Linked DNA regions of Homo sapiens: regions 1, 2 and 3 are each linked to region 4. Evidence: fine-mapped expression QTL. A gene starts in region 4. Each other region holds a variant in brackets. All regions are shown on one strand. Distances are from middle to middle.

The links. PIP is the estimated chance that this variant, and not a neighbour inherited with it, causes the effect. A credible set is the group of variants that fine-mapping cannot tell apart.
Region 1: its variant is the best candidate, but not a certain one, in a credible set for the expression of SCARB2 in whole blood (TOPMed, PIP 0.51).
Region 2: its variant is the best candidate, but not a certain one, in a credible set for the expression of SCARB2 in blood mononuclear cells (TOPMed, PIP 0.89).
Region 3: its variant is the best candidate, but not a certain one, in a credible set for the expression of SCARB2 in testis (GTEx, PIP 0.77).

The regions. Positions count from the first base shown.
Region 1 is chr4:76,262,542-76,270,181 of GRCh38, forward strand. It overlaps FAM47E (family with sequence similarity 47 member E), which reads left to right. Exons shown (of 8, transcript NM_001136570.3): 3 at 1,163-1,302; 4 at 6,119-6,227. It overlaps FAM47E-STBD1 (FAM47E-STBD1 readthrough), which reads left to right. Exons shown (of 7, transcript NM_001242939.2): 3 at 1,163-1,302; 4 at 6,119-6,227. Among named protein-coding and RNA genes, the nearest start is that of FAM47E-STBD1, 15 kb to the left of the region's middle. The variant A/T (reference allele first, on the strand shown) is at 4,645.
Region 2 is chr4:76,102,285-76,109,924 of GRCh38, forward strand. It overlaps ART3 (ADP-ribosyltransferase 3 (inactive)), which reads left to right. Exons shown (of 12, transcript NM_001130016.3): 9 at 1,653-1,685; 10 at 2,313-2,345; 11 at 5,477-5,509. Among named protein-coding and RNA genes, the nearest start is that of ART3, 31 kb to the left of the region's middle. The variant G/A (reference allele first, on the strand shown) is at 3,683.
Region 3 is chr4:76,294,428-76,302,067 of GRCh38, forward strand. The region is part of intron 6 of FAM47E-STBD1 (FAM47E-STBD1 readthrough); the gene reads left to right. Among named protein-coding and RNA genes, the nearest start is that of STBD1, 8.5 kb to the right of the region's middle. RefSeq lists an enhancer at 6,983-7,127 and a cis regulatory region at 7,050-7,060. The variant G/T (reference allele first, on the strand shown) is at 3,477.
Region 4 is chr4:76,210,674-76,218,059 of GRCh38, forward strand. SCARB2 (scavenger receptor class B member 2) reads right to left here and starts at 3,151. Exons shown (of 12, transcript NM_005506.4): 1 at 2,754-3,151. The coding sequence starts at 2,870. It also overlaps a transcript of FAM47E not described here. RefSeq lists silencers at 2,552-2,956, 2,870-3,489.

The DNA of each region.
Region 1 (7,640 bases), 52 kb after region 4:
AATTCATTTCATGCCTTTTTTGCAAATTCGACTTCATGAAAATGCATTGTCACAAAACTAACTTTGTGTGTAAGCATTGTGGATTTACATAAAAACATTGAAACTTCATCAATGAATGAAGAGATGTCCTTTTTTGTTCATCTGTATTTGTGAAAGATAACATTTTTTGATATCTTGGTTCTTTGGGTAACTGCACATAGAGTGGTGTCCCATCATGATTGTTTTTTGTTTGTTTTTTTGAGACAGGTTCTCATTCTGTCACCTAAGCTGGAGTGTAGTGGTGCAATTATAGTTCACTGTTACCTCAAACTCCTGGGCTCAAGGGATCCTCTCACCTTAGCCTCCAAGTATCTAGGACTACAGGAGGGCACCACCATGCCTGGCTAATTTAAAAAAATTTTTTAAATAGAAACAGAGGTCTTGCTATGTTGCCCAGGCTGGTCTCAAACTCCTGGCCTCATGCCATCTTCCTGCGTAAGCTTCCCAAAGCACTGAGATTATATGCCTTAGCCACTGTGCCTGGCCCCATTGTGCTTTTTGATTGATTTTGTCAAAAGGCTTAGGTTGTACATCACTGTGTTTCAGATGACTGAAATTATAAAGCAGAGTGCACACAATTGCCAAACATAGTGGTATGCGTTTATACATATCACTTTTTGAGCTATTTCTTCATGAATATGGTTTCCCTGCTCATATTATAGCCATGTGACTGCTAGTACACCTGACTGTTTATGCTTGCAAAACTATGTATATTGTTATTGCCTAATTCGTTGTGTAAAATGGCCAATGAAGTGTTCTCTCATTTTTACATTTCTCAAATAAATCTCCATCTAAAAATTTAAGTGCCTTTAAAATACTTTTTTTGCAATTTTTTTTCAGAATTATAGTTTTGGGATTTTAATTTTGGGGATTGTGATTTTGAGGATTTTAGACTTTAGGGATTATGATCTTTTAGGATTTTAACATTTGGGATTATGCCTTTTGGGATATGGTCCAAATCTATCCATAGCACCCAGCATAATACTTGGCACAGAAGTTGGTGAACAGCACTGATGGACTGAAAAGGAAAAGTGAAGGGCAAGTTGGTCTGTTTTGTTGTAGAATGGGGACTCCCTTCTTCAGCATGTTTTTCTTTTCCTCTAAGACTATTTTCTGTTTGTAGCTCTTATCAAAGGTGCTGGAAGTGCTTGATCCTGACCGGAAGCTGGAGGACACATGGGCTTATTGTCAGGACACCAGGAAAGGAATGAAGGAACCCACGAAGCTTTTAAAAAAACATTCTACCCAAGTCTACCTGGGACCGTGAGTATTGTTCTTAACCCTTCGATCATTGCTGTCACCTGATGAAACATTCTAGGAATTACCTTCTTAAAACTTCTCATCTTTAGAATACTTCTAATGAAGCAAATGTAACTAAGTTCCCAAGGAAGAGGGAAAGGAGTCCTAGGTACCGCTCTAAATAGTGCTTATTTCTTCAAGGGATGTGATTTATCCAGCGACGACGCAGACACAGGCGTCTATAAGGAAATTCCAGAGAGAGTCCCTCCCTATGCTTGAGGGGTAGAAACAGTGAAGGTTAGAAAATCCTTGATTTTGAGGCAGCTTCTAAGGCTTTCCAATTTCCTTTAATTCAAAAGTGCTCAGCATGCCAAAGCACCATACTTTTGGGGTATCATCCTTTGTGCCCCAAGAAATGTCAAGGCTGGAGGGCAGTGAAGAGATCACAACTCACTGCAGCCTTGAGTTCTGGACTCAAATGATCCTCCTGCCTCAGCCTCCTGAGCAGCTGGGACTTCAGGTATGTACCACCATGCCTGACCTAAGCCTTTTTTCTGAGTATAGGTCTACTGCTTGGAGTTTCCACCCATCTTTTTTGCATAAACCATACCTGTAATACTACCTTCATTGACCCTTCTCAAAGCATTAAGCTTAACGAAAGCACCTCCCTTTTGTAACACATTCTTGATTCCCCAGTCAATATAATATTTAATTAAATAACATAAACGCAGTGATAAGTTTACTGGACACAAATAGATTTGGGATACACATTTTTTGTTTGTTTGTTTGTTTTTGAGACAGAGTTTTGCTCTGTCTCCCAGGCTGGAGAGCAGTGGCACAATCTTGGCTCACTGCAACCTCTACCTCCTGGGTTCCAGTGATTCTTATGCATCAGCCTCCCATGTAACTGGGACTGTAGGTGCCCACCACCACACCTGGCTAATCTTTGTACTTTTGGTAGAGGCAAAGTTTCGCCATGTTGGCCAGCCTAGTCTTGAACTCCTGGCCTCAAGTGATCTGCCCACCTCTGCCTTCCAAAGTGTGGAGATTACAGGCATGAGCCACTGGGCCGGGCCTACATTTGACTTTTGAAATTAAAGACCTCACTGATGGGTGCTGAAGAGTACGGTGAACTAGAGAGTAGCCTATCCACAGTACCCAGACACTTAGAGGAGTGTGGACTGTGGTCAGTGTGTTTGGTGGGGGCCATGTAGAGCTTGTTGGTCACACACATTACCTACGTGGAGGTGGATTTAGAGGGAATCTACTGCATTACATTATATATGTTTTTTAGGGTAAGACACAAGGTGAGAGGAACTCTAGTCTTAGGACATTTCTGACTCTTCAGTCCACCTCCTGGTAAATGTAGGAAGGGTAACTGGACGTGCTTGTCTCAGTTCTGCCTTTCCTCCATGAGGAGCAAGATGGCCCATGGGAAGCACAATTTCTCCTTGCTTCCCCATTCTAGAGGGGAGGACTGTCCTGGTCCAGCCTTGCAGGGGACTGGGTGGAAGGGTCTGCCAATTTCTGAGTGTCAGTTAGCAAGTCCTCTTGGACCTAAAGCCATGTCGTCTATCATGGCTGCTGTTATCAGTGAAGGGGATATTTTGGCTACTGTCTTTGCTCTCTGTATTGTTTTTGAAGTTGCTCAGAACTTGGGTGAGGGAGCGAGAGGAGTGTTATATGTAGGGATCTGTGATATAATAAATATATTTGGTCTTTGTCCCCAGTTACTGACACAGGGCTCCTAAAACCCTTGGGATTTCCTGAGTGACAGGAATGCTTTTTGTTATTCATAAGGAGCCCCTTTTAGTCACTGGTGAGTTTATGCTAATGAGGTGCTCAGGTTGAGGCCCCTAGATTGTCTTAGAATGTGGCTGGTCATCAGAAAGACCAAGTGATTAGAGGGTTAGAATGTTCAGTCCCACTCAGTGTGACCTCTCAGAGGGGAAAGAGAGGGGCGTGGCTGAAGATTAAAAACTCTTGAACACATATATCTGATGAACCTCCGGGTTGATGGACACATCCAGGTGCTGGCAGGATGCAAGCGACACCAACTTCCACTCACCAGATAATCTGTCCTTTCCTTTAGAGCAAAATTTTTTGAAAGAGGCATTCATACTCACTTAGTCTTTTTCTCTCCAAACAACAATCAGGCTCTTATCTCCACCACTCCACTGACCTGACCTTAGTCAAGGTCTCCTTTGACCTCTATGTTAACTAAATCAGCTCTCAGGGATCACCATACTTGTTGTATACATAGTAGCAATTGACGTAATTGATCATGTCCTCTTTCTCATAACACTTTCTTTACTTGGCTTCTGGAACATCCCTCTTTCATGGACCTCTCCGTAGTCATCTTTTACTGGCCGCTCTTTACCTTCTAGCCTTGAAGTACTTTGGTCTTTGACGTCTTTTCAGCACGTTTACTCACAACCAAGTGACCTCCTCTGGTCCATCTGTATATGGTTAATTCAGTATTTGTCCTTAGTTGTATAATTGGCATCTCAGACTAGACAAACCCAAAACTGAACTCTTGTTTTCTCCCCCGAACTTATTCCTCCTTCTGTCTTCCCCAGTTCAGTAAATGGGAACCCCATCTTTCCAGTTTTTTTCTGGAACAATAGTTGCAATCTGCCAGCAAATGGTAATGACTTTACTTTTGAAATGTATCCAGAATCTCACCTTCTCCACTACTACCAGTCTATTCCAAGATTCCATCACCTCTTGCCTGGATTGTTGCAATAGCTTACTAACTGGTCTCATGGCCTCCACCCAAGCTCCCCTCTCTCAAGTCTATTTGTCACACAGTAGCTGACATAATCCTTTTAAAAATGTAAGTCAAGTCGTGTCATTCCAGTGCTTGAGATTCTCCAATTGCTTATTTTTCTGAGTAAAATCCAAAGTCCTTACAACTGCCTTCAGAGTACTGTATGATTAGGTCCCTGTCACCTCTCAAGCCTCATCCTCTACTATTCTACTCTTTAATTACTCCGCTCCACGGGACTTTGTGTTCTTTGGACATGCTCAGCACACTCCCAGCTCAGCTCTTTGCACATGCCATTCTTTTCTGTCTGTTATCTGCATGACTTGACATTTACATGGTTTGACCCCTTTCTTCTTTTGGGTCTTTGGTCAAATATTACTTTAATAGAGACAACTTCTCTGTATAAATAAAATGCTCCCTACCATCACTCTCCATCCCCCTCCTGTCCTATTTTACTTTCTCTATATAACTTATAATCACCCGGCATATGTTTGTTTACTATCTGTCTCTCCTATTCAGTTGTATACTCTATGAGGACAGGGGCTTAAGTTTATTTACAGTTCAATTCTAATGCCTGGCACATAGTCTGTGCTTACTGA[A/T]TATTTGTTGAATGAATGGGTGGATAAATTAATATGAGTGTTATGAATAAAAGGTACAGGGGCTATGAATAAAGAGTAGCTTCAGGGGACAGCTTGTGGGGATGCCTCCCCGAGGAAGGCACATGTATGTTGAGATATGAAGGGGATAAGGAAATGGTGACAGCATTGCAGTCAGATGCAACAGCTCAAGCAAAGGCCCAATGGCTGGAGGGAGCAGCATGAATTCACAGAACTGAGAGAAGGCCACATTGGCTGGAGCTCAGAGAGTAAAAAATGGTGGTGGGTCCCAAAGAACCTGGAGAGCCAGGCCATGCAGAGCCCTGGAGGTTGTGTCAAGATTTAAGTCTTTATTGGAGGAATAGCAAGAGGCTATTGAACACAAAAGCTTGTTCATGAATATCCATAGCAGCATTGTCCTTAACAGGCAAAAAGTGGCAACAGCCCAAAAGTCCATCACCTGGATATGTTTGTGAATGGATAAACAAAAAGTGGTCTATGTAGACCATGGAGTATTGGCCATAAAAAGGAATAAACTACTAATACATGCTACAACATGGATGAGCCTTGAAAACATTATGCTAATTAAGAGAAGCCAGACACAAAAGACTGCATATTGCATGGTTCCATTCAGATGAAATATCCAGAACAGGCAAATCTACGGAGACAGAAAAGTAGGTTAGTTGTTGCCAGGAGCGAGGGAAATGGGGAAATGGTGAGTGATTATTAATGGCTGCGGGGTTTCTTTCGGGGTAATAAAAATGTTCTGGAATAAGATAGTGGTGGTGGTTGCACAACTTTGTGAATATATAAAGGGTACTCTCATACACTTTTGAAGTGGTAAATTTTATGAATTTCATGGTGGATGAATTATATCTCAATTTTTATAAAGAAGCTATTGATGGTGACGAAGCGTGGCTGCATTTGATATGTCCAGAGTTACATTTTGAAATGACTGCTTGGGATGCATTGTAGGGAATGGATTGGGGGTTGGAGGTTGGGGGAGCCATAGGAGTTGATGATGCAGAGACACTAGCATTTTGCAGCAGTCCAGAGAAGGAGACAGTTACAATCTGCCAGACCTTAACTGAGCTGGATTTTAAGAATGTTAGAGAAGTCAAGGATGACTCCTACTTGTCAAGGTTGCCTGAGGCTTTGGTAGACTTCAAGCACAGTAATTTGGGCTTTTACCCAGTACATGTTTTAATAAATGGTACTCAAAATTTAAAAAAATCAACTTATAATGGTAAATGCTATGTAAGTTTTAATTATTATAACTAATCATGATATACTTGTCTTTATGATATTCGTAATGAGAATGTGCTCTTTGAAAAATTAAAATACAATTTGTATGTGAGCTTGCAAGAGACTGTTAGAAATACTTGCTTTATGATTTCCTTTTGCCTCTAAAACTGTTTGAAATCCATTTGGATTCATTGTGTCTCATATTGTAATTCTTTAATGATCTTATCTTTAGTTCCAAGAAGACGTCTGTGTCAAACGCAGGCCAATGGCTTTATGAAGAAAAGCCACATAAAATGGATTTGCTCCATGAAAATGGTCCTCGTCCTGGTCTTCATGAAAATGTATGCAAAGCAGTTAGTGACTTCTGCAAGTGGGTTACTACTTTTGTAAGTTAGTGGTAATATTTAAACCTACTTTTAAATGTCAAGCTCAAAGTTGCTTTTATTAAAAAACAGTATTGGATAAAATCTAAGTCAAATCCTCAAAGTCGTAAAGGAATCATTTTCTTCTATTATGTATAAATAGAAATATTTCTGGTAGATGAAATTTCTGGAAAGGTTGCAAACTTGCTGCTAATTTGAATGTTTATGTTTACATCTCACATCATTGCAGCTGTTTCATATTTTTATTTTCCATTTTATTGTTAGGACTTTCTTTTCTCTCTTTCACTCCTTCAACTCATTTTTCTTAGTTAGATTTACCTAGAAGTACTCTGGCAGGTACTCCTTGATTATAATCTTCACACAAAAATGTTCTGACATGCCAGGTGCAGTGGCTCATGCCTGTAATCCCAGCACTTTTGGAGACTGAGGCGGGCAGATCACTTGAGTTCAAGAGTTCAAGACCAGCCTGGGCAATATGGCAAAACCTTGTCTCTCTTGTATTTTTGTAAAAAATATAAAAATTAGGCCGGGTGCAGTGGCTCATGCCTGTAATCCTAGCACTTTGGGAGGCCAAGGTGGGTGGATCACAAGGTCAGGAGTTTGAGATCAGCCTGACCAACATGGTGAAACCCTGTCTCTACTAAAAATATTTAAAAATTAGTCGGGTGTGGTGGTGTGCACCTGTAATCCCAGCTACTCAGGAGGCTGAGGCAGGAGAATTGCTTGAACCTGGAGGCAGAGGTTGCAGTGAGCAGAGATTGCGCCACTGTACTCCAGCCTGGGTGACAGGGAGAGACTCCGTCTTAAAAAAATATAAATAAATAAATAAATAAAAATTAGCTGGGCATGATGGTGTGCCCCTTCCCACACAGGAGGCTGAGGTGGGAGGATTGCTTGAGCCTGGGAAATCGAGGCTGCAGTGAGCTGTCATCATGCCATTGCACTCCAGCATGGGCAACAAAGCAAGATCCTGTCTCAAAAAAAAAAAAATCTGACATAAAGAGACTTTTGACTCAGTTATCAAGGTCTTCCCTTGTGCGCCTTCCAAGAACCTATATAGTTGCCTATTCCTGTTCCTGAGTCTCTGTAGATGTCTAAATACCTGATGCTTTTCTTGGATTTAAGGTCTTTAGGATTTGCATTCCATGTCCCCACCCCATCTTTTGAGTGTTAGTTTTAGTCAATGTATTTTTTTTAGTACTTTAAACATCAAGCTACTTACTTCATTGGCAAGTGACTTAAATATAATTCAGATTGGTTTAAGAGAGAAAAGGGAAGCATCCAGATATAGTAGGAACTTCAGGCACAGCTGGATCCAGGTGCTGAAATATTTTTAGATGTTGTTCCTATCTTTTGGCTGTGCAACTTGGA
Region 2 (7,640 bases), 110 kb before region 4:
AAGATTTTAAAATGGCCAATTTGGGAAATTCTGTTATTTCTTTCTCCTGATTTCTTAGAAGTTCAGACAACTTAGTTTAGATGATGTGGAACTTTAGCATGGGTGACTCCATTTCGATTTTTAGTCTGGTCTGTTGGGGCCTTCTGCAGAAACTTAGTCTGAAGCAATGGCCTCCTATAATTTTTATTTGACAGTAGCAAAAATTTAGAAACAACCTGTGTCCAACCATTGGGTATTGTTAAATAAAATATTACCTATATTATGAAACACTAAGCAACTTAAAAATCATGTTTTCAAAACCATCTAAAGATAGAAGAAAGTACTCTTAATACAATGGTAAATAATTGGATATAGAACTGCATATAGAGTATAATATTAACTTTTAAAAATGTATATGTATATATATGTATGCATAGCAAAATGATTGAAATACACCAGAAATGTTAAGAATGAGTAGAGTATTTCCGAGATCTGCAGTTTTAAGAGAACTTTAATTTTTAATAATTTTCTGTATTTTTCCAAATTATCTATAACGTATTATATAGTTAGGAAGCATATTTTATATATTACATATAATGCCAATTTTGGGTCGAGGTCTTTGGGTTGAATTTTTAAAAAACGAACAAGAGGTGCTTAACCTAGGAGAGATTCTGGGTCACTAGCCTTAGTTCTTATCATCAGTTAGGCTCCAGTGGGTTAAATCTCTTCTTTTTGTTACCTTGTCCTCTGCCATTTCTCAAAGCGTTCTGAGTTTTCTACTACAGAAGTCAAGTATAAGGTCAAATTAATTTTCAAGCTGATGGCATTTTTTTACTAAATAGTTCTTATTCTCGTCCTTAGGAATAAAAAGCCAGAGGCTCACTGTTTCACCTGGGAAATAATCTATTTACTGAGACTAGCTACATGGTTAGGAGACGATAAGGATTCCTAGGATTAAGAACATTGTGAAAAGCCAGCACGGTGGCTCACACCTATAATCCCAGCTCTTTGGGAGGCGTAGGCAGGAGAATCATAGTGAGTTATGATCGTGTCATTGTACCCCACCACAGCCTGAGCGACTCAGCGAGACCCTGTCTCTCAAAAAAGAAAAAAAAATATTACTGAGCCTGGAGAGTTTGAGGAATGAGTTAGACAAGAACAAAGGGACTTCATTTATTGAGTACCTTTTTTCGCTCCGTGCAGTGTACCAAGCACTTTTATGCAGTCTTTCCTTCAATCTTCACTAACTACAAACCTAAGAGGTAAATATTTCTCTTGCAAAGTGAGAAACTAAAGTTAGGAGGGATTAAGTAGTCTGCCCAAAGTCACAGAGCTAATAACTATAATTACGATAGAGCTAAACCAAGCAGAAATGTAAAACCAGTAGTGTTTCATCCAAAAACTGATATATTGGGACTGCCTTCTGAAGATAAAGCTGGAGAGACGGGTTAGATCGTGGAAGTTCTTGAAGTCCAGGCTAAGGAGTTTGGACTCTGTCACATGGAGAATGAAGAGCCATTGAAAGGTGTTTTTGTTGTTGCTGTTTCTTTTTTCTTTCCCCCTGCCTTTTTTTTTTTTTGAAAGTTGGAAATGGAGGAAATATAGACAAAAGAAGAGTATTAACAGTATAAGATAACTGATTAATACAAACCAATATTTATTTCTGCCTTTAGGTGTGAAAATCCTTGAACCCACCCAAATACCTGGTAAGACAGCTTTCTATTTACTCCCTGAGCCCAAGAATGAGTTGAGCAGGATTCCCAGGCATTTAAGAGAATACTGTCATGAGACTATTATTCATGAATATTTCCCTTATAGCTACCTGCCAGTCATCTACAAATATTTAGCTGGGGAAGCGTAGAGAAGTCTCTTTCCTCCTGTGCATTCATGTGCTCCTGGAGCATTGTCTCTGGGGCAGGAAAGTTAGTTCTGCTCTGGATGTTGCTGAGGGGAAGGCTCCTGGGATCTGGATGCATCAGTCCAACACCTTCCAGGTTCTACAGCTAAAGTTATTCAATAGAAACCTACCTTTACGCACAAGTTGACTGTTAGTCTTGGCTAACATCTCATTGCCTGTATCTCCAGGTAACAAAACACGATATTCTCCTGGCATAAACATGCTCAGTGAAGTGCTATGGCAGAAGACTCCTCTAATCATGGTGTGGATTTGTATAATAAGGGTTTACGTAAGCAGAACTTTTAAATAAAAAGCCAGAAACTATAGTGCATTGGGGCCTTGGGTGCTTGCATCTCTTAAGCTCAGCAGACAAGAGTTTGAAAATTATACTCAGTGGAGCAAACTGTAAGTCATTGGAAACTTCCTTCTCATTTAGGAATGAAAATTCCAGAACCTTTTCCACTACCTGGTAAGCAACTGATAGGCATGCCAGAGGGGAACATGCCAGTTTGGGGAGTACAGTCACCATTAGATATGCATGGGACTTTCTATGCCTCATAATTGTCATCTATCAAATGTAGCCATCAGTAGTCACATGTACATGACAGGAATATTTGTAAGGACTATAAAACCATGGAATCTCAGGGTGCAAGCCACTGTCCAATGCATAAATCCCTTTCTCCTGAGTTCATGTAGTACTTTGAAATATTTTTTTGCAGGTTTTGTTATTATGGAAATGATGATCTGTTAAGGAAATTAGATATTTGGCATCTTAAAAACTATATCCAGCCACACAGTGCTGAACTTCACGTAACGCTGCTGTCAATGGAAGCTGCGTGCTGTATAAAGAAACAGCGTTTTCCATTAGTTAAATAAAGGCTCAGAGAACATAGGCTCAGAGAAAAGGGTCCAGGACCTCTTTTATATTGACCCAAATTTGCACTGTTGGATTTATTTGGCCACAACTTTGAAGTGAACCTCTAGTGACACTGATGACACACCTTGTGCGTCTACATCTCTTCAGCTCGCTAGTCCTGAGTTTGCACAGTGCCATCATTGGGGTCTTGCTCATCTGGCTATCTGAAAGGCAGCCACCGAGCATGGTGGGAGATGAACATGAGCTGTGTAGACAGATAGACCTGGCTTCAGGAAGTCTCTGCCACTTTCCTCTGAGTAGCTTTATATAAGTTACTTCACTTTCTACGCCCCTGCTTTCACATCTGTAAAATGAGGAAAGCTTCTGTCTTGCAGGACTGATGAGATAAAGTACCTAGCAAAGTACCTAGCAAAATGAATGGTGGTAACATAGTAGTAAATGGTAGCTGCCTTTGTTATTATCTGAAAACCTCTTTCTTGTTTAGGAATAAAAATGATACAACTGAATGAAAAACCTGGTAATATATTCTTTATTGGGGGTGGAGGCACCATGGATTCTAAGTCCTTTACCATAATCATTCAGTTAGTTCAGTCTTATGGGGTCTGGGGAAGACATCTGGGCTGTACACTTTCCGATATCCCAGTCTGCAAGCCAGACAGGGAAAGTGTTGAGAATTTCTTTCAGTGTGAGCAGCAGGCTGCTATTACGGTTCTCTGGGCCAAACATCAAAAAAGGCACTTGATCTTAAACTGGAACAGTTGGCTTCCAGCTGGGCCTGTCTATTCCAGAATGAGGCAGGCTTCTCAGGGTGAAGGAATCTGTAGACATAGAAATAGCATCATCCAAGAACTGTGAATGAGGACTGTGCAGCATGCCAATACTGGGACCAGCCATTCTGTGTGCTCCTCACCACACTCTACAATCGTCCA[G/A]TAGGCCACTAGATTTTGTTGGGACTACAGTGTATTGTGCCCTCTCCTGGAAAGCTATGTGTAGCTTTTTAAAAGGTGATGTGAAAACAGTACACAGGAGCTCATTTAATCCAATACGATAAATATTATTGACACTTCAGAGATGAGAACATGGAACATAAGAAGGCTAACAAATTTATAATAGGCTAGAGACAACCAGGACTCAAACTTTTCAAGCTTTGTTCACTTTGTGCTACACTTGTCTTCCAAACAGATTTAGTTATCCACTTCTATCCTGGGCACCTAGAATTGGTATTTGGCTTCAAAGCTGTTAAAATATGGTAATATCATAATATTTCTATGCTAGGCACACACTTGGTAGTACAGATGGTCTCCAAGTTACAATGGTCAGTCTGTAAGAAACACGAAAAGGTGGCTTGCCAGTTAGGACAGATTTATTTTAGAGAAAACAAACTTGAGAGGCGCCTTCTGGCCGAGTTAGGTTAGAGGCCCACTTTTTTACAGACTAAGAGTTTTTAAGGATTTAGGGTGGGAGAGTTTATCAGCGGCTTGGACTGCTTCTGTGTCTCTTTGTTGTGCTTATCTGGGAGAGAGCGTTGTGTGTCTGTTCCCATACATCATTCTGCAGCTGCAGGCATATTCCCCAAGTCTGCTTTTAGCTTCCCTAACTTAGTGCACCTGAAGAGAAAGGAATGTGCTTATTAAGGCCCACTGTTTTACTGGGGCCCACTGTATGAGGGCGAAGTTTGGGAGTTACTCAAGAGACTTCCCCCCCACCTCCCTTTGTGCCCGAGCTGTTTTATCTGTGTTTTACTGTTTGCTCCTTCTGGCTGCTTGTAGTTAGAAGAGGTGATTTCCTTGAAATGCATGAGGCTAGAAAGGGAGCTCGAATTTAAAGTGGTGGTGTTTGTCCAAGATGACGGTGCTCCTGCTCTATCAGGTTCAACTTGGGATTTTTTGATTTTGCAATGGTCTGAAAGCCATACACATTCAGTAAAAACCATACTTCAAGTACCCATACCGTTCTCTTTTTCACTTTCTGTACAATATTCAATAGATTACATGAGACATTCAATATTTTATTATAAAATAAGCTTTATCTTAGCTGATTTCGCCCAACTGCAGGCTCATGTAAGTGTTCTGAGCACGTTTAAGGTAGGCTAGGTTAAGCCATGATGTTCTGTAGGTTGGGTGAGTTAAATGCATTTTTGACTTATGGTATTTTCAGCTTACATTGGATTTATTGAGACACAACCCCATCATAAGTCGAGAAGCATCTGTATAGCATAGTAATTCAGAGCAAATTTGAAATTAGATATTTCTAGCACCAGTTACCCCCGTGATTTTATGCATGGCATTCCTCAAAACATTTCATAAATGTTTTAAGGAATATCTGTGAAATATGGATAATTATACCTGGCTAATAAGACTAAGAAGTAAAGGTGACAGTGTACATAAAGCATTTGCACAATGCATGGCACATAGTGAACACTCAATAGTAGGTATTAATGTACTTGGGAATCTAAGTTCAATATGTAGAAAATACTTTTTGTGAATAAAATTTTAACTTTTATTTTTATGTAAACACATATTGATGGGAAAAAAAATTCAAAGAGCACAGATGAGAACAAATTAAACCCTTCCCCTAACCCCACACATACCCGTAAACCTATTACCCTGCCCCTCAGACCCACTCACAGAGATAACCAAGTTTGCTTAATTTTTAATCAGATCTTTCTTTTCTGGATAAACAGATATACAATATAACTAACTCAAAATCTCTTTATATTTTAGAAGATAAAAGTCAAGGAAATATCAACAATCCTAGTAAGAAGTATCTCATTTCCTCAGTTGATAAATGCCTGCTTCTGTAATATAGAAAAAGTGAGAAATTTATTTTTCCTCAATAAAGGGAACAAAGTTGCAAGGTTTTAAGGCATCTTAATAACAGAGTATAATGTCATATCCAAAAGCTTGTGTGTGCATGTGTGTGTTGGGGACAATATAGCTTTGTTTTTTCGATAATCGTTTTCCATTGTATCTAGAGTTTCTACTCTTAGAACAGTGGTTCTTACCAGTCTGAAGACTGGGAGCAAAATATAAAAATAAAAAAGAAAATATATATTAAAAAAAAAAAGAACAGTGGTTCTCAACCCAATTCTCCCTTTATAACAAGTATTTTATAAAGTCCTTATATTATCCAGAAAGAAGATCCATAGATGAGATGCATTTGTACCCATAAAAATCAACATCATGTCTAAAGTAGACCGATGTTTACATTTATGCAAATAAATTTGGGTTGAAGAGAAGATTGGAAGCTATTCTATACAGGAAGTATAAGAAAATGGAGTGAAGAAATAGAGTAGATACTAAATAAAAACTGATGTTTAATGTTTATCAAAACTATTAAAAATATACATAAAACTGCTTTAGGTTCTGAGTTTGATTATTTTAAATAGGTTTTAACTTACATGTATGTCTAGCAGTACATTTTAAAGTTGTGCAGGAAGTTGGTCAATTTTTCATGGTCCAGAACTAGAGCACTGCAGGATATCTATCCCTCTACCTCCACTCCACTGTTAGCAATGATTAAAAAAAAAAACAAAAAACTCTTGACAATCGTCCAAACTGCCTCTTGGGGCAGTAATGCCCCCCTGAGAACCACTGGTCTGTGGTAACATACAGTCATGCATTGCTTAACAAGATGGGGTATGTTCTGATTAATGTGTTAAGTGATTTTGTCGTTGTGCAAACATCATAGTGTGTACTTACCCAACCCTAGATGGTATACCCTGCTACACATGTAGGCTACATGGTATAGCCTACTGCTCCTAGGCTATAAACCTTTACAGCATGTTATTGTGTTGAGTACTGTAGGCAGCGGTAACACAGTGGTAAGTATTTGTGTATCTAAACATAGAAAAGTTATGGTAAAAATATAAAAGATAAAAAATGGTACAGGTGTATAGGGCACTTAACATGAATGGAGCTTGTAGGCCCAGAAGTTGCTCTGGGTGGTGTTGAGCGGATGTGAAGGCCTGGGACACTACTGTACACTCCTGTAGACTTTATACATACTATACAGAGGCTACACTAAATTCATAACAAATTTTCCTTCTTCAATAGTAAATTAACCGTAGCTTAATGTAACTGTTTTACTTTATAAACTTAATTTTAATCTGACTCTTTTGTAATAACACTTAGCTTAAAACACACATTGTACAGTAGTACAAAAATATTTTTTCTTTATATCCTATTCTATAAAGCTTTTTTATCACCTTTTTTTTTAACTTTTTAAACTTTTGTTAACAACTAAGACACAAACATTTACATTAGCCTAGGCCTATACAGGGTCAGGATCATCAATATCACTGTCTTGCACCTCCACATCTTGTTCCACTGGAAGGTCTTCAGGGGTAGTAACGTGCATGGAACTGTCACCTCCTATGATAATGCCTTCTGGAGTAGCTCCTGAAGGACCTGCCTCAGGCTGTTTTATAGTTAACGTTTTTTAATAAGTTGAAGGAGTACAGTCTAAAATAATGATTAAAAGTATAGTAAGTACATAAAACAGTAACATAGTTGTTTATTATCAAATGTTATGTATTATATATAATTGTATGTGCTATACAGTTATACAACTGGCAGTGCAGTAGGTTTATTTACACCATCATCACCCCAAACACGTAATATGTTACAACGGCAACGATGTTGCTAGGCAGTAGGAAATTTTCAGCTCTATTATAATTATAGTCTTATGGGATCTCTGTCATACATGTGGTCTGTCATTGATGGAAACATCATTATGCATTGCACGACTGTACTAATGCATGTGTGCATCTGCCTATCCACTTCTCTGTGTGTATACATCCAACTGCATGTTTATAACTATGGCAAGTACATTGATAATATGAAGGCTTTTACAAATCTGACTGGCTATTTTTCTTGGTTTTATTTA
Region 3 (7,640 bases), 84 kb after region 4:
ATGGTTGTGTTTAGCAATCAGCTCACTAAATTCTTGAAAATTTGTCAGTTGACCTTTGTGAGTTGGTACAACCTGTCTCTAGCACCTTATTGACTATAGAATTCAAGGCAATGAGGGATGTTAGGAGCAAAGAATGAAGAGAATTGTTTTCCCCTACCTCCAGTAAGGTTACTCCCACAAAGAATAACATTACAGAGTCTTCATGAAAGATGGAAAAAGCCTCATCATGAAGGGAGATTTTCTCTGACGAGGAAGGCTGCATTAATTCAGGTGTGCCAAGAAGCAATGGCAAGATGGGAATAGATGTTCTTGAGCTTTACTGAAGGAAGGAATGGGAAAAGATAGAGAGAGCTTTAGACTGTGATGCCTGTCTGATATCTGTGGAAGGAATAAGGGAAGGAAAGAAGATTGGTGTAAGAAGAATCTTGGACTGTAGCACAATTCAAATAAAGGTTTCGCCAGTCCAGCAGGAAGTCCTCAAGTTGAAGTTGCCTAGAGGAGGAGTTTCACTTCTTGCCAGAATGGGACTACCTTGGTGCTTCTGGCATGCTCAGTCATTGGTTAGGGGTAGCCCATGAGAAGCATGGCCTCAGTGTGAGGGTGGAGGATCCAGGGAGGCAGCAATTTGGTCCACCAGCCAATGATGCTCTCTGCAGCAGATGATCTGAGTAGCATATTTTCATAGGGTTGGGAGTTTAGGGTACTTGGAGCCCACCGTATCTTCCCATATGTTCCCATTTCAGGATTCAGGGTCTCACTTTTTCCAAACAATGTTCTAGCTTCACATAAGGTATCCTAAAAACCTGTGAATTCAAATGATGTCTTAACTTAGCAAACTAAACAGTCAATTATCTCTCTCTCTCCCAGTTCAACAGTTTCAAGACATATTTCTTTAGAAAATTCCAAAGAGCCCCTGATTTGGGGATTTGTGTTTGTTTTAAAATATGTCCACAAATTGGCCAGGCTGGTGGCTCACACCTGTAATCCCAGCACTTTGGTGTGCCAAAGGCGGGTGGATCATGAGGTCAGGCGATCAAGACCATCCTGGCTAACACGGTGAAACTCCATCTCTACTAAAAAATACAAAAAATTAGCTGGGCATGGTGGCAGGCAACTGTAGTCCCAGCTACTCGGGAGGCTGAGGCAGGAGAATGTCCTGAACCCAGGAGGCAGAGCTTGCAGTGAGCCGAGATAACACCACTGCACTCCAGCCTGGGCGACAGAGCAAGACTCTGTTTCAAAAAAAAAAAAAAAAGTCCACAAATTATTTGATACTTTTTCAAAATGTGGTGTCTAATTCCCTCCACTCAAGTGTAGTTAGTGACTGTAGTTAGTGGGCTGTACTTAGCGACTTGCTTCTAATGAAGACAATGTGGGAAAGGTGATGATGCCTGATTTCTGAGTCCCAATCACATCAGGTGAAATTGTGGCTTCCTTCTTGTTCTCACTTGGATCATCTGCTCTGGGAGTGTCTAGCTGCCATGTTGTGAGGACACTAAAGTTGTCTATGGAGAGGCCCACATAGCAAGGAACTAAAGCCTTCTTCTAGCAGCCATGGGGCAAGCCATCTAGGAAGTGGATCCTCCAGTCCCTAGTAAGTCTTCAGATGAGACTGCAACCCCTGCTGACATCCTGACTGTAGTCTTACGGGAGGTCCTGAGCCAGAACCACAAAGTTGCTCTTGAATTCTTGAATCACAAAAACCACTATAATGTTTGTTGTTTTAAGCCATTAAGCTTAAGATTTATTTGTTAAGCAGTAATAGGTAACTAATATAGATTTTGTTACCTGGAAGTGGAGTGCTGCTATAACAAGAACCTAAAGTGTGGGAGGGAGAAGAACTGGGTAGTGGGGTGGAAGCTGGAAAATTTTGAGAAGACTGTTAGTAAAAGCTTCAAGGGCCTTAAAAACACTGTTAGTAGAAGCCTTTGAGGAGGTGACAGCTTGTAGGAAAATGAGGTAATGTTATTGGAAAGTGGGAGAAACAGTCTCCTTGTTATGAAATAGCAAAAAGTTTAGCCCACATGGAATGTAGAAAAGGCAGCTGATGAGCTGGATGATCTAACGAAGGAGATTTTCATACAGAATGTTGAAGATACTGCCTGGTTTTCATTTGCTGCTTACAGCAAAATGCAAGAAGAAATAGATAAGCTAAAGCAGGACAGCTTAAAAAGAGGAACCAGGATTTTATGGTTTCGAAATGTCTAGCCTCTTGGATAGCAGATAATGTTTAAATTAAGGAATGATATGGGGCAAAGACAAAATCCAGGACATTGCCAGGAAAACATGGTCTAAAGAAGACTCCAAGGATGTAAGGATGTAACTGTTAAATCCTTTGTTAAGACCTCAGAAAGATAAAAGGTGTTGCCTCAGCGTACTGTTCAACTAGACAAAAGGCTCCCTAAAATTTTCTTAGGTGTGCTACAGTTTCTTTTGATCAAACAAATAAAGCTTCTAAGAAGCTGAAGATGTTGTTCTTCACCAGAAGCCCATGGTAGAGAAGGGCTTATCTTGAATTGATTTGTAGATTTGGCTTTTGAAAAATGGCATGGACCCAATAAGAGTCACAGGAAATCTGTAAAGTTTTTCAAAGAATTGTATTGGAATAAAAACTGCCAGCTTGGACTAAAAGGGACAAAGACAGTATGAAATGAAAAGAGGCCTCTGGATCTCCATAGTTCTACTGGCAGAAAGCAGACTGAGAGAACTTCTCAGCTACACATATGTGCTTCCATTATAGAACAGATGACTCAGAGGACATAACCAAGAAAGTGGAAACAAAGGCCATGCAGAATTATTCCTAGTTGAACAAAGTTCTAATTGAGGACCTTCTACAATTTCCTTGGCTGCTTTACAGAATTGCCATGGAGCAGTGACTCCTGTATGCCTCTATTTTTCTCCTATTTTTGGAATATGATTGTATATGGTGATTATATTGTGTCTGTTCTACTATTATATGTTGGGTGATGTTACAGAGGGTGGGGGTGGGAGGGATAGGCATATACCTTTCTGTCTTCAGATTGAAAGGAAATGCATTAGAATAATTGTACTTAGGAAGTACATCTAAGCAGTTTCATCTGTACCTGGGCCTGATTCAGATTCTAACATTCTGGATTCCAAACTGATGCTGTAAAGGGGTTATGGGAGGATTTTGTAAGGGTGGGGCTGTGGGGGTAAGTATATTTTACATATGAAAAGAATGTAAGTAATTTGTGGCTAGAGGACAGATTGGTCTTGTCTTAAAATATGTTCACAAATTCTGTGATACTCTTTCCTTCAAAAGATGAAGCTTGATTCTGCTTTTCTTGAGTGTGGGCTGTGCTTAGTGGCTTATTTCTAAAGAATAGAATGTAGCAGAAGTAGCGATGTGTGATTCCAAAACTAGACTGTAAAAGGCATTGTGTTCCCTCTTTGCTTTCCCTGAGATCACATGCTCTGGTGCAGATTTTCTCAGCCCAGGCAATATTGATGTTTTG[G/T]ATCGAATTTTTCTTATTATTCTTTGTTGTGAGGGACTGTTCTGTGCTTTGTAGAATATTTAGTATCACCTCTGGCCTCTACTCACCCAAAATTCCCAGAAGTTGAATTGCTATGTCAAAGGATATATGTACATGCAGCTACACACACACACACACACACACACACACACACACACTCACATAGTTGTTTATTCTGTCTTGTTCTTTAAGGTTTTTGGATATAGAGTGCTAAGTTGCCTCCAAAAAGGTTGAATTTTTTCCCTATTAAAATATATTGTTTATATTTGAATTTATTTTTATCATTGGTGAACATTTTTAAAAATGAACATTTAAAAATGAATTTGGTCTATTGCATTTCTTTGTGACTTAGCTCAATTTTCTCCTGGGGCATGAGCAATGGTGTGCTCACAGGGCCTGCTTTCACTGTGGGCAGAATAGGCAGTATTACACATTCTGGTTAGAAGAGGTGGGGAAGCCCTGCTTTCCCCCATCACCCTCCAAGGTAGGTGTGCAGGGTATAAAATTCTTACATTAGAAATGCATTATTTGCCCACTTTTTAATGGGATTATTAGTTCTTTTGCTGTTGAGTTACTTGTATATTTTGGATATTTGTCCCTTGTTGGATGAATAGTTTACAAATACATAATGAAATCTAAGTTGGCTATAGAATGAAATCTTGTCATTTGCAACAACATAGATGAAACTGGAGGATATTATATTACGTGAAATAAGCCAAGCACAGGAAGACAAATATTGCATGTTCTCATTCATATCTGGGAGCTAAAAAAGTTGACCTCGTGGAGGTAGAGGGCAAAATGATAGTTACCAGAGGCAGGGAAGGGTGTGTAGGGGGTGGGGGAGGAATAAAGAGAGAGGTTGGTTGGTTAATACAGACAGTTAGATAGAAGGAATTAATTGTAATATTTGACGCCAGAGTAACAAAGTACTATATATTTCAAAATACCTAGAAGAGAGGACTTGAAATGTTCCCAACACATAGAATGATGGATACTCTAAATACCCTGACTTGATCATTACACATTCTGTGCATGTAACAAATACCACATGTACCCCATAAAAATGTACAAATATGACATATCAATAAAAAAATGCATTATTTTAGTTTGTCCTCCCTCTAAACTGATTTTAAAATATCAAACAAGTTCACTGTAAGGTACTGGTGACACATCAACTTTCTTTTTGACAAATGTTCACAGATAACAATATTTACAGTTCCGTGGTTGGGTGGATGGGTGGAATCAGAAAGCAGTTAAAGAATAATACTGAGGCCAGGTGCAGTGGCTCACACCTGTAATCCCAGCACTTTGGGAGGCTGAGGCGGGCGGGTCACAAGGTCAGGAGTTTGAGACCAGCCTGACCAACATGGTGAAACCCCGTCTCTACTAAAAATACAAAAATTAGCCAGGTGTGGTGGCACATGCCTGTAATCCCAGCTACTCAGGAGGCTGAAGCAGGAGAATCACTTGAACCCAGAAGGCGGAGGTTGCAGTGAGCCGAGATTGTGCCAACCGCACTCCAGTGTGGGCAACAGAGTGAGACTTTGTCTCACAAAAAAAAAAAAAAAAAGAATAATACCAAAAAGAGGAAGAAGACAAGAAACGAGATAAAGGGACACCCCAAACTTTGCCCTCATGGTGGCTTTGCTAGATCTGTCCTGGTCTAATCTACCTCATTCTCTCCCAAGAAGATAACTGTCAATGCTTTTAAAAAAATCTCTTGGACATTTACAGCCTATATTTTGGTGGTACATGCTAGTGCTTGACCATTCTTGATATTCATTTATTCATTCACTCAATAAATACATATTTTGAGCCTCTACCGTGTAGGACACTAGGCACCCTATAGGTCACTGGGAGAAAACTATAAATTCCCTGCCCTTGTGAGCTTACAATCCAGTGAGGGAAACACACCTTTAATCAAAGAAGATAATATGGAGAGTGACATGGGCAATTAATGGGGTGCAGGGATGGAGAACAGCAGGGGGCAGGCCTGCGGAAGTGAGGGCAAGGGCCAACTTTGGTTGGGGAGGATCTCTCTGAGGAGAAATTTGGCTTACATTCTCTCTAGTAACAGTGTGCACCTGGTGGGAATTGGGAGTCTTTCACTCATGATTACAATTATTTGAATTGTATCTAATTGTGTGAGGAGCTGGAGTGCATGGCGTGGTCCGGCAGGTCTGACTGGAGGAAGCAGAGATTGCCAATGGCACCCATGGGCTCTTCCCTTTTCTGTGTGCCGGGCCCGCTGCCCCTGCCCTGGACTCTCCCTGACTCCACCCTTCAAAACTTGCCTGTTCTCCTCTTCCTTCCTCCCTCATATTTCCCTCCATTCTTCCTCACTTCCTCTTTAAGCCTGCAAGGTTTGAGTTCACCTTACTCCTTAGTCTCTTTGCTACTTACAGTGAGGCCAACAGACCAGTATCAACTGGCAGCTTGTTAGGAAAGCAGAATCCAGACCCCACCCTGGACCTCTTTGTTTATTTATTCATTCTCCTTTTATCCCAACTCCTATTCCTATACTTTTGCCCACCAAACCACTTCCTTTAATGTGTTAAGAATTGTTCCTAAATATGCATGTATCTTTGAAGCCTCAGTAGTGCTATTTTGAGTGTTTATGTATTTTCAACTTGCATAAATATTATTGTACTGTAAGTCATTGTTTCTTGCCTTTCTAGTCACCATTATGTATTTAAGATTTAATTACATTATGTCTAGATCTTGTTCATTGTTCTAACTACCGCATAGTATTTCATAGGCATCTATCGCATTTTATTTAGTTATTACCCTATGATGAACAGCCAGGGGCTTTGAACTTGCCGTTGGCCCAAGTAACACTGTATGTCCCTTATAGTCTTGTGCACATTTTTCCCTGGGCCTACATGTTGAGGAGTGGGATTGCACAGCCATTGGCTATGTGCATACTTAGCTTCACAACACTCTTCCAGAGTGTTTGTACCTGTTGGCTCTCCCAACAGCAGCACCACACAACTTCTTTCTAATATTTGTCTCTCTGATGGATGTAAAATGGCATATCATTGTTTTAATTTGCATTTTTCTGACTATCAATGAGTTTAAGCATTTTTTGTGTCTAATTTTATTCAGCCAAAAATTATTGTGCCTATTATGTTCCAGTCATTGTTCTGGGCACTGAGGAAAGAGCGTCCCTCGTCCATTTTTATATTGGATCTTGCGTCTTTTTCTTGCCAATTTGTACGAGTTCATTGTAGAGCTAGGTATTAATCTCTTATCAGTTTTAGACAACACAAATATCTTCCCCCAGTTTGGCTCTATCTGGTAACTGTTTATGGCACCCTTCATTGACCAGATAGCATCATTTTAATGAAGTCAAAATGTTTTTGGCCTCCTATGTTAGGCAATGTCACATTGCCAGTTTCCTGGATTTTGTTCTATTCATAGTTTTACCATTTACATTTAGGACTTTATTTCATCTGGAGTTCAGCATTTATGTGGTACAAAGTAGTAATCCAGCTTTATTTTTCTGTAGATAGTGAGCTAGTTGTCTAACACAGATCTCCCTTTTCTAAAGTTTTAATGACTTAGCATGACTGATGTCAGCCTTGAGTCTATTCTGGAACTAAGATGAGTCAGAGGTTTGCAAACAGTTTCAGTTAGAAAATGTCTCTGTGAAACCTGAAACTGGGCAGCTCCAATGTGACTGCTTTGCAGAGAGGTTGTACTTGTGGTTAATGTTATGTGGCTCCCCAGGAGCCAGAGGTCTGACAGCAATGGACAGGTGCTGAGGGTGATAAGTGCATTCCCCTAATGGAGAGAGGGGTTGCAGAGTTATTACAGATCAAGAACAAGTCTGAGAGTCACCACAAACACTGAAACACAACCATAAGGGTTCTCTAGTATAACACATCCAAATTTGCACACTCACTTCTAAAATCTATGCTTTGAAATTTGAACATAGTTTAAGAATCATCAGACTTCAGTGTAGCTAGGGTTTCAGAGCAGGTCCTGGGGATCAGAACACCGGGTTCAAATCCTAGCTCAGTCACTCATTAACTGTATGACCTTGACCAGATTACTTCCCTCCAAGCATTCCATTTATAAGGATGAGATAATCTTTATAAAGCACTTAGCCTGGTGCCTGCATATTTTAGTTATTCAATAAACAAA
Region 4 (7,386 bases):
CCTTGCCCAATACGAGGCAGTCACCACTGAGGCCAAAAATGAAACAAAATTGTCTTGGTTCCTTCCACGATATTCACTGGCCAAAATTAAAAGTCTCTCTTCAGTTACCTCTGGTCACTGCAGGGTTCAAGGACAATTATCATTTGAGACAACTTTTTGGATAGGAATTCTCTTACTAAGCTTCCCACACCTACTCATTTGAATTTCATCCCTTTTCCCTCTTCCCTTTTTGACATAGACAAGTCGGGGCATAGACAATCTTCAAATGAAAAAACAAAGAACTGGAAATATCAGAGTAGATTATATTATAACTACATTAGAATCAAGTTATGAATGAATTCTCCCATAGTAATACTAGTGGCAATAAAGATGACTGCCACATATTGATTACCTATTCTGTGCCTGATACTATGCTAAGTGCTTTATACTTGGTCCTACAATAATACACATGCAGAGACAAATCCAGGTTTTGTGGGTCCTGAAGCTTATACAATTTGAAGGGTCCTTCTTAAGAAAAAAGAAAATTTGGGATATAGAATGAGGTACAGGGCTTCGCAAGGGTCTGTGCAAGTGAGAGACCCAAAGCTTAACTTTGCGAGTTTCATGGTAAATGCATCACTGTGCCCAAGTTAGCTAACAGCTCATATCCCCAGTTTTACAAGCAATGAAATTGAGGACCAAGTAAGTTATTTGACGTAAGTCATAAAGCTTATACTGGCAAGGATAGGATTTGAACATATGGAATCTGACTCCAAATCTCACGTATTTTCTTTGTGTGGCTTCTAATAAAAATAAAGTTGCTATCACCTATTAAGCACTAACTATATCCCAGAAAGATCACACCTTAAGGTTATAAGAATTATTTGACAAAGCAGATGTGATCGTTAGTCCTTATTATCCCTATTTACAGATGGGGAAAACATGAATCAAGTAAGATTAAACAGCCCACGGTCACCGAGCTGGGACATAGTGGAAGCTAGGTTTCATGCCCAGGAGTGTAACATCCTCAATCTTTCCCACTGTCCCATGCTACCTACCACCCTACAGGTAATCCAGGAAAAAGCAGAATAGCGATGTGTGACTTACCTCTAATGACAACAGTATTTCCACACCTGCCCACTGAAACTAGCCCTGTCCTTTAGTTTCATACAATACACCGTGCAGTCCTCCTTAGCTGGGATTGAGCAGCTCTGAAAGTCCACTTCCCTGTACTATTACTTATCAGAACAGAGTCCATTCCTCATGGAGAAAAACACTTGGAAATATCAACACAAACTCAGGCCCCAGCCAAGTTGCCTTACAGCCACCCCCTCACCCAGAGAAATGGAGACACACAGAGAATCTAAGGGCTGGCTATATGGGAACCACGGGGAAGATCACTCATCCTATAGGGCTCCTTGAAACAGCCTTTCAAGGCCATATAAGAAAACTCACATATTTACTATAATTGGATTGCTTTACTCTAGTCACCCAAAGCAAGAGTTTACATCCTCAAACACAGCTCACCATGGATTTGGACATGGACAGGAGTGGAGAAAGGATTCAGTTTCTTTTTTCCTTGAACATGATTGCTCAAAGGAAACTGACCCTCGAGACGCTCAGACAGTGGGCCTTGTCTTCCCTTGGCAATGTGAACTTTAAAAATTACATTATGCTTTGCCATGGTGCTTTTTGAAAAACTGCCTTTAACTGCCAGATTTCAGGTACTCACTTAATTACTTTTGGAAACTCAGTTAAAGGAAGATATCCATTGCCACCTGGAATAAAATAGCTTTACTGACTGGAGAGTGCAGTGATTCAAAGTAGACTAGGCCTGGGCTTTTTTATCTGGCCGCAGCAAGTGCAGACCAGTGGGAGAAATGAAGCGTGCAGTTATGGATGCTAACAAGAAAGGCTGCTGCTCCAGTGATTATTTTTCTTTTTTAAGGAAAAAATGATCCCAGTAATTCTCTTTTGTTCCTCTTTTGACACAGCTTGGTGGATGTGGGGGAAAGGGCAGATGAAATGACCAGTGAAATCAAAAGATGAAGTCTTCTTAAAGGACTGGCTCTCCAGCCCAATCATCTAGAGGAAGAGACAAGTTCAGATTCTTGTAGGGTATCTAAATGCATCTGTGCCTGAAAATTATGGCCGTTTGAGAAAAACAAGAATTCATGGTGAGACAAAGCAACACAGACTGTTGGTACAAGATACAAAGCCACTAAGTCAGCGTTCAGCAAAGACTGATGGATGAATTGTCACCCAGCCTAAAGGACTGGCCCAGCTACCAACTGCCCCTGCCCAGCCCAAGAGGGCAAGAACACAATAGACCGCACACCCACGTCTCATCCCCAGGCGCACACCACTTCAAAGGCTACAGCAAGCAGACAACATAACCTGCCTCTTCTGCGGTGTCTTTCATTCAGTTCTGTTTCTTCATGAAGTGGGAAGGAAACAAGTTTGGGCCCACCTGAGATTGGGGTGTAGACGGAAGGAGTGGGGAGAGATGCAAACGACAGAACACAACCGAAGGCCTTTTTAAAAGTCAGGATCCATAGCCTTACTTATCACTGTAAAGGGAACAGAGTCGGCTCCATCCTTCCTCATCCTTCTTTAACCCTCGCCTACCAAGCCCTGGAAGACAGGGACGCAAGAAGAGCTCTAGCGCGGAGGGTCTGCCTGAGTGCTGGTCTTTCCCATACAAGATGTAGCAGCAGGGATGGGAGGGTGAGCTGGACGACTCCACAACACACACACAGCCCGCCCCGCCTCACCTTCTCGATACTCTGGTCTACAGCCTTCTGGAAGACCCGGGCCACCAGCAGCGTGACGCTGGTCACCAGCAGGAGCAGGGACAACGTCCCCGCCGTGTAGAAGCAGCATCGGCCCATTCTGTGCGCCGCTCACGGGCCGGGCCGGGCCGCACCCGCCAGGGATCCAACTGCAAGGAGGGAGGAGCCGCCGCAGAGGCGTCGAAGACCCGGGACCCTTCGGCGCCACGCCCACGCCCTCCCGGCGCACGGTTCGTGCGCGCAGCTCTGGGCTCCGCGGCCTGGCGAGCGCGGCCCCGGGTGCACCGGGCGGATGGGGCCGCGGAGGGACGGGCCCGGACTCGGTTTCGGTTTCCTTCGCCGGGCAGCCGTGGCGCCCGCCTAGCGCAGCTCGGGAGAGTGCAGGGAGCGCGCAGGGACGTGACGTTCGCGGGCCGGGCTCGCCGCAACCCCGCGAGGCAACCGCCGGCGACTGCGCGGGGAGGCGGGCGGGGGCGGAGGCCGCAGTCATGTGCCCTGCGGCGGCGGCAGTGATTCGGCCCGCGCCCTCCCCGGCCGGTCCCCGGTGGCCCTGAGTGGCTGCGGCGCCTGAGCCAGGCCCGGCCTGGCCGCTCCCAGCGCCCTGCACCGCAGGCCCAGCGCTCGCCCCACCGAAATTGCCGAACCTGGTTCACACACTCATTTACTCATTCCGCAGATAGGTCTGAGGGCCTCCCATGGGCCACGCGCTGGGGATTCAAGGTGGCTGGGACATTCCCCTGCTCTAGAGGCGCTCGCAAGTTAGCGGGGACACCGTTACCGCAATTACAACACAATGTAGCAAGTGCTTCTACCAGGTGCCTGCTGAGATCATGCCAGCAAGCATGTTCTGCCTGGATGACCTAGGGCCCCACATTGAACTGGGGCCTGGGGGATGCATAAGTTTGTCACGTAAGGGGCATGTGCAAGAATGGAAGATGTGCAAAAAAGGGAGGAGGAGGCATTTCACGGAGAAGGAAACGGTGAGCAAAGGCATTGGGGGTGAAAGAGCAAAACCTGTAGGAAGCAAGAAGGAAGTTCCTTTTGACTGTAGGCTCAGGTGTTCAGGGGGTGGAGTCGGAGGTGTTGAGGCCCCAAGAGGTCAGACTTTGAAGGGCTCTTGGTATCCTGTTAAAGATGTGGAAGTTGGGAAGGAGCTTAAAGCAGGCATCGCTGGTGTTCTTGCCTGCTTTGCTCACTGTGGTGTCCCAGACACCCAGGACCAAGACCTGCACACAGCCAGGACTCAAGAAGTGTTCGTTAAATGAGTGTTTCTTCTACGCCAGCCCTTTACTAGTTTCTTTGCACAGTTCTACTCATTTAATACCCTTGGCAGTCCTATGAATAGGAGGTTGTGTTTGTCCCAGTCCTCCAGAAACAGTCCCAGATGGGGGTACTATGCAAGAGAGTTTTGAGGGAAAACAGGGAGCTGGACCTGGGATGCAGGTGTGATCCTTGTGAAGGAAAGAGGCAAGCAAGGAAGGAAGGTTGGGTGGAAGGAAGCATTTGATATATATACAGTCCATGTATAAAAAGTTCAGCAAGGCCATTGGGGTGGGGAATCCTTTAGCCAAATGGGCTTGTCCCAGAAGTCTGGCATCTCCCAGAAAGAGGCCCGCCTTAGTATCCCTGCTGTGCTCAGTCATGAGCTGGGAGCAGCCTTAGGAAGCTGGCCTTTGCAGCAACCTAGGGATAAATATCAGGGTATGGATTTCAGCAGAGCTCAGCAGTTGAGGCGGAGCCATTGGTCAGTTATGCTATCTACACTGCAAGATCCAAGAAGTACATTTTCTTGGCAACTATAGTGTATTATCCTCATTTTACACTCAAGAACACTGGGGCTCTGAGTTAAGTAACCTAACAAGCTCAACTGGTTGCTGAGTGGTGGATCCTGCTTGAACCAGGATGTAGGGCTGGCTGTTGGCTTCCAAAACCCTCACTTTTTCTACTCTGCGCATTGCTGCATCCCGATCTGTCACTAATGAGAATCTGAGGACAGCAAATCAGTTAGGAGGCTTTGTTGAGGACTTGGTGAGATAGCATGATGGTTTAAAAATGGTGGCAAATTATTTGTTACTCCTTTCGTTGAGAGGTGGGGTCTATACTTTCTCGCTTTGAATTTGGGCAGGTTTTAGCAATTTGTTAAACCAATAGAATACAGTGGAAATGACCATATCCTGGAACTTCTGAAGCTAGATCATAAATGCCTTGCAACTTCTGCTGGGGCCTTTGCAAATTCTTGCTCTTGGAGCCTCAAGTCACCCCTAAGTTCAGCTACCCGGAGACTGCTGCAGAGAACATGGGAAAGACTGTGGGGAGAAGCCCTGAGTCTGTAGGAAGAGAAATGTCCCACCAGTCCCCAGCTGTCCCTAGCCTTTTGAGTCACAGGCCCTAGACATTACAGAGCAGAGGTGAGTGGTCCCTGCTGAGCCCTGCTCAAAATGCAAAATAAAGGATTGTTGTTGTTTAAGCCACTGAGTGTTGGTGTGGTAGGTTACTCAGTAGATAACTGGAGCAGATGGTAAGGGCAGAACTGAGGCTGGGACATTTTGTAGCTACCAAAGCTCTTCAAGCAGCAGCCCCAGAGGACCAGTCCTGTGTTCAAATAGAACCTGGTGGGGTCCTGAATGATTCAACTGTCCCCAGCCTGATGGGTGGGTGGTCTCCAGTCCTCAGGTGTCCACAATCGGCAGCCTTTCTCTTCCCCTAATCCTGCCTCTTCTCTGCTGTTAAGTTTCAGTTAGCTACATTAACTCTGCTCTGTGCCCCAGTTTGCTTAAGGAGCAATGCTAGCCCACTAACCCTCACATGTCCCCTACCTAGGCATTGGTTGAAGTCCTCCTGTCATCTATATGTCCTCTCCTTCCCTAACTAGAAAAAAAAATTTGGTAACTTGCCTGCCTAGGTACTTTGGCACTCAGAAGTTCATGCTCACACTGAACTTCCACCCCCTACTCTCTGACTGCTACAATCAGATTTTCTGTTTGCGGGCTCCATTCTGGAGGGCAAACTCCATAGGTACCCACTCCTCCCATCCCTGGACCACCAATCCCAGGGTACTCTTCCTTTTCATTGTTCATTGAGGTCCCTTCTTCTCTCTTGTCTGGGCCACCAGGACAGTAACAGACTGTGGGGATGGAGAGATGGAGACAAATTTGATAAATGTATCTTAGTGTGGGAGAGTTTCTAAACAAGGGTTTACAGCTCAAGTTGCCCTCAGTTTACCTGCTCTCTGAGGATCTCACTCTGTTTCCACTATGTCAGGCGGTTAGTAAGCCACTTCCCCTTTAAAACTCTGGACAAGCCGAATGAAAATCTCTTTCTTGGTTCTTCTTAACACAGCTGACCAGGCTAGCATTTTTAAATGTGTTAACATAAGACAGAACAAAAAGGACCTAATTACAGAAAATATAAACAGCTTTTAAGAAAATAATGTATGTTCCCAAAATAGCAGTCTGTGATCCCACAGTAATCTCTGTCTTATCACCGAGGCTGGCATAACTTTTTAGCAGCTGGCCTGGCTGTCTTTCTGTTCAGTTCCATCTTCTCTACCCACAGCTATGTTCAGAAGCTTTTGACACAAAGCCCCAAAATCCAGATTTAAGTTTCTCAATGCCCTTTGGGACTTCCTCCTCATTTCTGATCTATAGGACATGTCTGCACCGCTAATTGGCATTGTTAGTTTATTGCCACAGGATCATCTCACCCTATGAGAGACTTTGCCCTCTCATCCAGGGAGTAGCCCCTGCTTGCCAGCCACTAATAACCCTGAACACACTCTGGAGGGGCAGACAGCTTGGGAAGGGGTTACTGCTCCCAGAGTTTAGATGAGGAGGCTGATGCCAGGGCAGGGAGACAATCAGGACTCTTCCTGGTGACTTCTCTGCTATGGTTTGGATTTGTGTTCCCTCCAAATCTCATGTTGAAATTTGATCCCCAGTGTTGGAGGTGGGGCCTAATGGGAGGTGTTTGGGTCCTGAGGAGAGATTGTTCATGAATAGATTAATGCCTCCCTCAGGCATGAGTGAGTTGTCAGAGAGCGGGTTGTTGAAAAGAGCTGGCACCTCCTCCTTCTCTCTCTAGCTTCCTCTCTGCCCATGTGCCTCACACAGGTGTGCTCCCTTTCTGCCTTCCCAGGAGTGGAAGCAGCCTGAGGCCCTCATCCAATGCAGATGTCTGTGCCGTGCGTCTTGTCCAGCCTGCAGAACCATGAGCCAAATAAACCTCTTTTCACTACCCAATCTCAGGTATTGTTATAGCAACACAAACAGACAAGGGCGGAAAATGAGGAGACTGATGCTGTGGCAAGGAGATACGGTGATCTCTCTATACCTAAAATCAGAAGACTTTATCTGAGAAGAACAAGTACACTTAATGAATGATTGCTGGTGCCTGTTGAAATTATGCAATCATTCGGGACTTAGAAAAAGAGCTTTCTTCACAGACTCTAAGGGCTATCGAGGGGAAGCAAGAGGGCTCTTTGGGCTCTACCTTAAATTTAGAATGTTGATACTATACTCAAATGAGTTTAATGATGTAGTCATTGTATACTTTTATGTTCAAAGTGTTAATGTGTTAAATATAAACATTTAAAATACACCACAGGCCGGGCCAGGTG